3 linked regions of the Homo sapiens genome follow. The protein of the gene in region 1 interacts with the protein of each later gene in a pairwise test. Each region holds a gene or a part of one and is shown on either strand. Other genes may lie near its edges.

What was found.
Region 2: the proteins of TYSND1 (region 1) and ACSL6 come close enough for resonance energy transfer, tested with the Homo sapiens proteins (one large-scale study listed by BioGRID).
Region 3: the proteins of TYSND1 (region 1) and SOD2 come close enough for resonance energy transfer, tested with the Homo sapiens proteins (one large-scale study listed by BioGRID).

Annotation. Positions count from the first base shown.
Region 1 is NC_000010.11:70,137,481-70,140,590, reverse strand, and holds the end of TYSND1 (peroxisomal leader peptide-processing protease), read left to right. Parts: intron 1-449; coding exon 450-667; 3' UTR 668-2,610; downstream 2,611-3,110. UniProt on the Homo sapiens protein: Peroxisomal protease that mediates both the removal of the leader peptide from proteins containing a PTS2 target sequence and processes several PTS1-containing proteins.
Region 2 is NC_000005.10:131,969,959-131,973,686, reverse strand, and holds part of ACSL6 (long-chain-fatty-acid--CoA ligase 6), read left to right. Parts: intron 1-286; coding exon 287-421; intron 422-828; coding exon 829-963; intron 964-2,041; coding exon 2,042-2,137; intron 2,138-3,486; coding exon 3,487-3,559; intron 3,560-3,728. UniProt on the Homo sapiens protein: Catalyzes the conversion of long-chain fatty acids to their active form acyl-CoA for both synthesis of cellular lipids, and degradation via beta-oxidation.
Region 3 is NC_000006.12:159,669,164-159,672,891, reverse strand, and holds part of SOD2 (superoxide dismutase [Mn], mitochondrial isoform A precursor), read left to right. Parts: 3' UTR 1-3,728. UniProt on the Homo sapiens protein: Destroys superoxide anion radicals which are normally produced within the cells and which are toxic to biological systems.

The sequences.
Region 1 (3,110 bases):
ACCGAGCAGGCCAAACAAAATATGTCTGTGGGTCTGATTCATTCATTCATTCATTCATTCATTCATTCATTCATTCATTCATTCAACAAGCCTTTGTTGCGCGCCTACTTGGCACAAGGCACTGTTTCAGGTACTGGGGAGACTGCATGAACAAAACCTCAAAGTCCTGCCCTTATGGAGCTGACACTAGGTCGAGAGAAAGATAACAAGTGAAATAAGTGAACTATCTAGTGTGTTAGATTTTGAGAGTGTTAAGGAGAAAACGTAAAGCCAGGAAAGGGTGTGGGCAGCAGGTGTTCATGTCTAGAAGCTCAGCGTCTGTCACCACGTGGGGTGGTATCCAGCCCTACCAGGCCCTGGGGGCTCCAGGGTGGAGATGGTCCTCCTCCCTTCTCCAGCCTTTCTGCCCCCTGGCTCACATCCTCTTTTGCTCTCTGACTCCTCAACAGGCATAATCACCAGCAACACCCGGGACAATAATACGGGGGCCACCTACCCCCACCTGAACTTCAGCATTCCCATCACGGTGCTCCAGCCGGCCCTGCAGCAGTACAGCCAGACCCAAGACCTAGGTGGCCTCCGTGAGCTGGACCGCGCTGCTGAGCCAGTCAGGGTGGTGTGGCGGTTGCAGCGGCCCCTGGCAGAGGCCCCGCGGAGCAAGCTCTGAGGCTGTGTTACCACCTTTGGAAAGAAGAGTGACCTTTTTCTGCTGTAGGAAGTGATGTTGAGGTGACGGTGGCCTCAGGATTCAGGGCCCAGCCCCTGCAGGGGCCCAGGCTGCCTCTCATCTCCACCCACTGACTGCAGACTGGGCTTTGGGCTCTGGGGCAAACTTCTCTTCAGCCCCATGGATCCTTAACCTGGCAGCCCGTTTTGGGGTGCTTTCTTGAGCCCCCAGTTCTCTGTCCCCTAGCACTAGACTCAGCTGTATTGTTTTTCCTTCTGGGGAGCCCACTCCAACTGCACAGAAGTTCTGGGCCTGACAGGTAGATTCCAGCTGGAAGGCAGGCCCGTGCCTGGTTTTGCGTCTGTTCCCCTGAGGGCCATCGTCATCCTGGAGCTTCAATGGGGCCTTGGCTCCTGTCTGCCTCTCAGTCAGAGTCAGGGCTGACAAAGGACTCAGCTTCCTTAGCATCTCAGCAGAAACCTTGCTCTGAAGACCAGAGACAGAAGGGACAGAAACAGGAGTGCCTCCTGCTGTGCCAGGCCCATGGGCAGTGCAGGCAGATCCCTGAAGGTCAGCACTCCTGGGTCTTCATATGCCAACAGGGGCGCTCTTGACACTGTGCCTTCATTTTCCAGCCCACAGCCTGGGTCTCAGGGATCTTGAGGGGTAGAACATGTCTGGTTGGGGCTTGGGAATAAACATGATCTATTGAAAAACCTCTGTATTTATATATCAAATTGTTTCTTTTTTTCAGGAGTTGAACTGGGAATAGGCAAGTACCAGGCAAAGAAACACACCCTTTCCTTTTTTTTTTTTTTTTTTCTTTAGAGCTGTGGTCTTGCTCTCTCACCCAGGCTGGAGTGCAGTGTTGCGATCACAGCTCACTGCAGCCTCAAACTCCTGGGCTCCAGGAGACCTCCTGCCTCAGCCTCCTGAATAGCTGGGACTACAGTCGCGCACCACCACGCCTGGCTAATTTTTTATTTTTGTAGAAATGGGGTATTGCTTTGTTGCCCGTGCTGGCTTCAGCCTTCTGGTTTCAAGCAGTCCTCCTGCCTCAGCTTCCCAAAGTGCTGGGATTACAGGTGTGAGCCACTGTGCCCAACCCAGAAATACACCCTTTCTGTGCTGTTTTCTCAGCAGGGTGTGAGCTCACGGGATACGGTCCTGCCAGACTGGCCCTCATAGCTGGTCATGTGCCAGTCAGAGCTGGGTGGGGCTTGCAGGTCCCGGAAGGTGGTGGTCTTGACCTGGCAGCAGATGCTTAAAGAATGCCTAAGGTGGGTGGCAGTTGGGGAGTTCAAGGGTGAATGAGGCCAGGGCAGCCCCCAGGAGCTGAGGCCAACTCTTTGAGTCAGGACTGTGCCGTGTGCCCAGGGCCTTGCATGTGTGGGCCCTCGAGTGATTTCTACTGGCAGGCTGAAAGCCCTGTGAGGGGCGGCTGTGGGCGGAGGCCACGCAGGAAGAGTGCTTAGGAGTAACTTGTTTCTAACACCTGTGTGCTGAGTGCCAATGCTGGGTGTGGTGTTATGATATATATTGGTTTTCATCCAGCATTCCTGACTCGTAACTCTCATAGTCCTTGTTCCAGTCTTTGTTAGAATACTGGGTATGTTAGGGCTTGGGACAGGCCTCTGACCTCTGGGTATCCTTTCACTAATGTTCGCCCACCTTTTTCACAGTGGGTCCTAAAGACCTTCCCATGAGAGGGTCTCAATCCTAGGGGAAGGAATGTTGATGTCATGAACCTTCCATAAAAACCCAAGAGGACAGGGTTCAGAGAGCTTCTGGATAGCTGAACACCTGGCACTTCCTGGAGTGTGGCGTGCCCAGGGAGGGCACGGAAGCTCTGCACTCCTTCCCCTTCCCTCATTCCTTGCTCTATGTGCATCTCTTCATCTGTATCCTTTGCGATATCCTTTATAATAAACCGGTAAACATAAGTAAGTGTGTCTCTGAGCTCTGTGATCCACTCTAGCAAATTAATTGAACCCAAAAAGGAGGTCGTGGGAACTCAACTTGAAGCCAGTTGGTCAGAAGTTCTGGAGGCCTAGACTTGTGCCTGGTGTGGTTGAGGGGGGCAGTCTTGGAGACTGAACCCTCAACCTGTGGGGTCTGACAATGTCTCTGGGTAGATAGTGTTGGAACTGAATTAGAGGACACCCGGCTGATGTCCACTGCTTTTGGTGGGGAAACCCCACACACATTTGGTCACTGAAGTCTTCTGTGTTGATGATTGTGATGGCATGAGAGTAGAGGGAAAACACGATTTGAGGAGAGTTTTTCCTAAAACACGGGGCAATCACAGAACACTCCTGGGATGGTTGTTCCTCCCTTTACAGATTAGGAATGGGTCCAGAGGTCATGGCTAGTTTAAGAGAAGTTCTACAGTAAGTTAATGGTAGCAGAATCCTAGATCTGAGGTCTGACTTTGCTGTGAGAG
Region 2 (3,728 bases), on another chromosome or scaffold:
GAGGGGGGCACACGCCAGTGAGAATGGCTGCTTTGGCATCTCCCAGAGGCTCAGGATTCCACTCCATCTTCTGCTTCATCTCCCTGTGCCTGAGTGGGACTTGGTTGGAAGGTGAGGGGGTGGGGGTCACCTCAGATGGCATTCATCAGTGTCTCATGGCAGCAGCCAGAGCTGGGTCAGGGGGTCATGGGTGCCCTCCATGTAGGGCAGCACTTTGGACAGCTTTGGACTATCGCCAGTAGTGACCACCCTAAGGGACTCCTCCCTTCCTGTCCTGTCTTTCTAGTCTGTCGTCTATTGCCACGGAGGGCGTGTTGGCTTCTTCCAGGGAGATATCCGCCTTCTCTCAGATGACATGAAGGCTCTATGCCCCACCATCTTCCCTGTGGTCCCACGACTGCTGAACCGGATGTACGACAAGGTAAGTTCTGCAGGGAGTCTTCAGCCAGGCTGAGGGGCTGCATATTTGCTTGTTTGGACAGGGTCTGGAGCCCCAGGCAGGCTTTCAGTGCCTCCACTGCCAAGTCCTGGAACTTGCCTCCTCTCTTGTAGTTCCTGACTCTTTCTCATTCTTCCTTCTCCTGTTTTCTTCCTATTCTCCAAATACCCCTGCGGGAGAGATTTTTTTTCAGGAACTTCCATCTTCACAGCATGCCTGGACCCTGGCAGTGTTAACCTTCAGCTCAATGTCACACATTCAGTGACCTCCTGCAGGGGCAAAATGGAACATGGCTTCTCTGCTGGCCAGTCTGGGCCTTATTCCTGGGGGATATATCTAGAAATGAGACATTCAGGCTCTGACAGCTGCTTCCAACTTATGTTCCTCAGATCTTCAGCCAGGCAAACACACCATTAAAGCGCTGGCTCCTGGAGTTTGCAGCAAAGCGTAAGCAAGCCGAGGTCCGGAGTGGAATCATCAGGAATGATAGTATCTGGGATGAACTCTTCTTTAATAAGATTCAGGTAAGAAAATGAACAAGTGATTATAGAGTGACACCTAAGTATCCAACGGGTGACCTTGCAGGAGAACTGGAGAAGTTCATCCCAGTGCCCTGTAATCATGTGAAATAGTAACTCATTTGCTCATGAAATCAAAGCTTAAGCTATGATTGAAATTTTAAACTTAGACATTTTTGATTTTTGGAGATACGTTACATTTGAGATGAGCAAGAAGAAAACCTACTATGGATAGTAGGTCCCTTGATCTCCACAGGCAACAGTGTGGCTTTGACCTTGGGTAGTCAGGTCAGTGCTCCACTGAGAAGCTCCTGGGCCCTGAAGTTCTCTTGCCCCTCCCTGTAATCCTGGCCATGGTGGCTTTCCAGCAGCATGGGTCTAGCCAAATGGTTCAAAATCTTCTTTTTCTTTTCTGTGTTCTGTCCCTTTAGTATCTCCCACACCAGGCCAATCTTGAATTACTCATTTCTGTACCTCCTCAAAAGTTTTTAAACTCTGCATTATCCAAGGAATCTGTAGTCAATTAGTAGCATTATTCATTTTTTTCTTGCTACTCTATTTTTAGTTATGAAAATTAATATTTAAAATATCTTGGCTCAACTTACATAAACAAAGTGTTTCAAGTATTCTTCGTCCTCAGCAGTACATAGTAAATAAAGCATGGTATTGATTTATACATGAAAAAAGGCAATGCCATTAAAATGGAAATTGGAAGAAATTGTCCTAAGTAATTGTTTTGGATTCTTGTCAATGATGGGAGAGTGACGGAACAGCTGTGTATTTTAAGGAAGGGAGAAGAACCAATATTATAGAATGCCACCCAGACTGATGGTACTTATCTCAAAAGGCATAAAAGAATTGGTCATATGGTGGATTGAGCTGCAGAGCTGATTGTGTTTATCATTAGGAAGGGGAAGGAGTTTCCTCAGCTCGTGTGTTGTACAACCTCAGGCCTTCTTTCTGATCCCAGCCCTAGCATCCAGGTAGGACCCAGTTGTTGGATGTTGACCTTGGATGAAACCCAGATGGACTGGACACCATCTCAGACATCACAAAATTTGGCAGCTCTTCTTTCTTCCCACAGGCCAGTCTTGGTGGGTGTGTGCGGATGATTGTTACTGGAGCAGCCCCAGCATCACCAACAGTTCTGGGATTTCTCCGGGCAGCTCTAGGGTGCCAGGTATTGTCATTGTGTGTCCTCCCTTGGAAACAGCAGGAAGTTCGTTAGGGCAGGAAAACTACTATACCCTCTACTGCTCAGAGAAAGAACCGGGGGACAAGATTTTTGTGAGACAAAAGCTCCCTCCTCTGAGGAGGAAAAAACTCAGAGCCAGTGAAAGCCAGGATGGCATTGCCACATTCTGGAAAGCCCAGGTTTATCCACTCTGGGAAATTCTTTTATCTGGACCTTTGGAAGTTTTTCACAAAGGGCAAAGGGATCAGACAAACCATAGACAGATCATCAATGTGCGGTAGAATCTGTACCATACCTGTACTGCATCTCTACCTTCTTCAGCCTGCAAAATATCTTGCAACCCAGAAAAGGAGAACAAGGGAGAAAGCCCATTTATGTGTTATTTGATCTATTATGTTTTGTCATCTCTAAAAGTTTATTTCTTCATTTTCCATTCAGCTCATATTTATTAAGTTTCTGCATATGAAGGGTATCATAACGTGGTTGTGGCTGATGGATTTGAAGTAAAGTAGACCCATCTTTTTCATAATTGTGCGTGCTTAAATTTTTCTGCTTTAGAAGCCTTGATCTTTATTCACTGTACTCCTATTCCACATCAGCATGGCCTAACCACTTCTAAAGGCAGACACTCCTGCATGGTGTATTCATGCAAACAGGTGGGGCTCTGGAGGGGAATAGCTTATGGAGCCAAAATAAAACACAGAGTAGATTTTAAAATGTTTATCTTTAATTCATTATTATCCAGATGAAAAGTAGATTCAGTGGTTGAAAATAGGTCAGAAATCTTTACCCTAAACTATATAACCTTATCTACTAAGTGTCTGTGATAAAAATAGCACTTCTCACGCCTATAATCCCAGCACTTTGGGAGGCCGAGGTGGGTGGATCACGAGGTCAGGAGATCAAGACCATCCTGGCTAACACGATGAAACCCCGTCTCTACTAATAATACAAAAAATTAGCCACGTGTGGTGGCACATGTCTGTAGTCCCAGCTACTCGGGAGGCTGAGGCGGGAGAATGGCGTGAACCCAGGAGGTGGAGCTTGCAGTGAGTGGAGATCACGCCATTGCACTCCAGCCTGGGCGACAGAGTGAGACTCCGTCTCAAAAAAAAAAAAAAAATAGCACTTCTTCCAAGCAAATGTGGCCATGCTTGTTGTCTGTGTTCAGTTTCACCTGGAGTTATCTACCTCCAGAGCACCTCCCTCCCTCCATCGCCCTGATCATGAAGCAGTCAGACACGCTCAGTGGGAGGTTAGCTGTCTGGAAGGGGTGGCCAGTTAGCTCTTGGAGGGTGTGTGCCCATAGTGTGGCTTCTGTGTTTTGTTTGAAGGTTTATGAAGGTTATGGCCAAACTGAGTGCACAGCTGGATGTACCTTCACCACTCCTGGCGACTGGACCTCAGGTAGGATGGGCTAGAGATATAGGACTGGCTCGCGAGGCACTGTGGAGTAAAAGCAGCCAGCTCTAAAACTCCCTCATGGAAAGTAAATTTGCATGGGTACTTAGGAATAAAGCAAAAGAGACAGAAAAAAACATTAATGGTGGTTATGTCTGGGTTGTGGCATTGTGAA
Region 3 (3,728 bases), on another chromosome or scaffold:
CCTTTTATTTTGAGCCTATGTGTGTGTGTCTCTGTACGTGAGATGGGTTTCCTGAATACAGCACCCTGATGGGTCTTGACTCTTTATCCAGTGTGCCAGTCTGTGTCTTTTAATTGGAGCATTTAGCCCATTTACATTTAAGGTTAATATTGTTATGTGTGAATTTGATCCTGTCACTAGGATGTTCACTGGTTATTTTGCTCGTTAGTTGATGCAGTTTCTTCCTAGCCTCAATGGTCTTTACAATTTGGCATGTTTTTGCAGTGGCTGATACTGGTTGTTCCATTCCATGTTTAGTGCTTCCTTCAGGAGCTCTTGTAAGGCAGGCCTGGTGGTGACAAAATCTCTCAGCATTTGCTTGTTTGTAAAGGATTTTATTTCTCCTTCACTTATGAAGCTTAGTTTGGCTGGATATGAAATTCTGGGTTGAAAATTCTTTTCTTCAAGAACGTTGAATATTGACCCCCACTCTCTTCTGGCTTGTAGAGTTTCTGCTGAGAGATCAGCTGTTAGTCTGATGGGCTTCCCTTTGTGGGTAACCCGACCTTTCTCTCTGGCTGCCCTTAACATTTTTTCCTTCATTTCAACTTTGGTGAATCTGACAATTATGTGTCTTGGAGTTGCTCTTCTCGAGGAGTATCTTTGTGGCGTTCTCTGTATTTCCTGAATTTGAATGTTGTCCTCCCTTGCTAGATTGGGGAAGTTCTCCTGGATAATATCCTGCAGAGTGTTTTCCAGCTTGGTTCCATTCTCCCCGTCACTTTCAGGTACACCAATCAGACGTAGATTTGGTCTTTTCACATAGTCCCATATTTCTTGGAAGCTTTGTTCGTTTCTTTTTACTCTTTTTTCTCTTAACTTCTCTTCTCACTTCATTTCATTCATCTGATCTTCAATCACTGATAACCTTTCTTCCAGTTGATCGAATTGGCTACTGAAGCTTGTGCATTCGTCACGTAGTTCTCATGCCATGGTTTTCAGCTCCATCAGGTCATTTAAGGACTTCTCTATGCTGGTTATTCTAGTTAGCCATTTGTCTAATCTTTTTTCAAGGTTTTTAGGTTCTTTGTGATGGGTTCGAACTTCCTCTTTTAGCTTGGAGAAGTTTGATCATCTGAAGCCTTCTTCTCTCAACTCGTCAAAGTCATTCTCCGTCCAGCTTTGTTCTGTTGCTGGCAAGGAGCTATGTTCCTTTGGAGGGGGAGAGGCGCTCTGATTTTTAGAATTTTCAGCTTTTCTGCTCTGTTTTTTCCCCATCTTTGTGGTTTTATCTACCTTTGGTCTTTGGTGATGGTGATGTGCAGATGGGGTTTTGGTGTGGATGTCCTTTCTGTTTGTTAGTTTTCCTTCTAACAGTCAGGACCGCCAGCTGCAGGTCTGTTGGAGTTTGCTGGACGTCCACGCCAGACCCTGTTTGCCTGGGTATCACAGTGGAGGCTGTAGAACAGCGAATATTGCTGAACAGCAAATGTTGCTGCCTGATCATTCCTCTGGAAGCTTCATCTCAGAGGGGTACCCGGCCATGTGGGGTGTCAGTCTGCCCCTACTTGGGGGTGCCTCCCAGTTAGGCTACTCGGGGGTCAGGGACTCACTTGAGGAGGCAGTCTCTCCGTTCTCAGATCTCAAACTCTGTGCTGGGAGAACCACTGGTCTCTTCAAAGCTGTCAGACAGGGACATTGAAGTCTGCAGAGATTTCTGCTGCCTTTTGTTCGGCTATGCCATGCCCCCAGAGGTGGAGTCTACAGAGGCAGGCAGGCAGGCCTCCTTGAGCTGCAGTGGGCTCCACCTAGTTCGAGCTTCCCGGCTGCTTTATTTACCTACTGAAGCCTCAGCAATGGTGGGCTCCCCTCCCCTAGCCTCACTGCCACCTTGCAGTTCGATCTCAGACTGCTGTGCTAGCAATGAGCAAGGCTCCATGGGCGTGGGACCCTCCGAGCTAGGCACAGGATATAATCTCCTGGTGTGCCGTTTGCTAAGACCATTGGAAAAACGCAGTATTAGGGTGGGAGTGACCCAATTTTCCAGGTGCCGTCTGTCACAGCTTCCCTTGGCTAGGAAAGGGAATTCCCTGACCCCTTGCCTTCCCGGGTGAGGCCATGCCTTGCCCTGCTTCAGCTCATGCTCAGTGGGCTGCACCCACCGTCCTACACCCACTGTCCAACAAGCCCCAGTGAGATGAACCTGGTACCTCAGTTGGAAGTGCAGAAATCACCTGTCTTCTGCGTCGCTCACGCTGGGAGCTGTAGACTGGAGCTGTTCCTATTCGGCCATCTTGGAACCCAACCCAAGTCTGGCATTTTTTGGTTTTCTCTGTGTATTGACTATGATTATAGAGGATAAATGGATATTGATATTATTAAATCGTCATTTACAGAAGGCACACAACTTATATCCTTTAAACAAAGTTCTCCAACCAGTAGGGTATACTTGCTGGTAGTGCTTACAGCTGCCACCATTCTTCACTGGGGCTCAGAGTGGATGCCTGGAGGAAAAAAACAAATGAATCTTTTAGCTCCTAGTTACTGTTAGCATTTTTACCAGAAAACAATTTAAAAAATGACACAAGTAAGTCTTCACCTATCAAGGCTGAGTGTGGTGGCCTATACTTGTAATCTCTGTGCTTTGGGAGGCCAACGCAGGAGGATCTCTTGAGTCCAGGAGTTTGAGACCAGCCTGGGCAACAAAGCAAGACCCCATCTCTACAGAAAGTTAAAATTTAGCTGGGCATGCTGGCACATCCCTATAGTCCCAGCTACTTGAGAGGCTGAGTTGGGAGGATCCCTTGAGGTCATGAGTTGGAGTCTACAGTGAGCTGTGATTACAGTGTGAGTCTACACTGCACTCCAGTCTGGGTGAAAGAGATCCTGTCTCTCAAAAAACAAGTGATTCTCCTGGGAAGAGATTTGTTTAAAAAGTCTGCACCTCTATTGATGATAACTTTGAATGTAAATGGATTAAATTCTCCCACTTAAAAGATATAGATTGACTGAATGGATTAAAAACCACCATCATGACTCGACTGTATGCTGCCTACAAGAAACCTCACCTGTAAAGACAGGCCAAAAGTGAAGGTATGGAGAAAGATATTGCATACAAATGGAAGCCAAAAAAGAGCAGAAATAACTATACTTACATGAGATAAAATAGACTTTAAGTCAAAAACTGTAAAAAGAAAAGTCATTATGTAATGAAACAAGGATCAATTCATGCAAGATATAATCATATTTTTTTATTAAGAAAATTTTTTTGTAGAGATGGGGTTATGCTATGTTGCCTGGCTAGTCTCAAACTCTGGGTCTCAAAGCAGTCCTCCTGCTTTGGCCTCCTAAGGTGCTGGGATTATAGGCATGAGCCACTGTGCCAGGCCTGAGGATATTATCATTATAAATATATATGTACCCCACACTGGATGACCCAGATATAAAGCAAATATTATTAGATTTAAAGGGAGAAATAGACTCTAATACAATAGTAGTTGAGGACTTCACTCTACTCTCAGCATTGGACAGATTTTCTAGACATAAAACCAATAAATATTGGATTTAAATTGCACTTTACACCAAATGGACCTGACATTTACAGAACATTCTAATAGGTGCAGAACACTCTAATAGCTGCAGAACACACGTTCTTTTCATCAGCACATGGAACATTCACCAGACTAGTTCTGGAACCCACTTCCTGCCTTAGTGTTCTTTCCACCACAGTGCATGATAATTCCGACAGA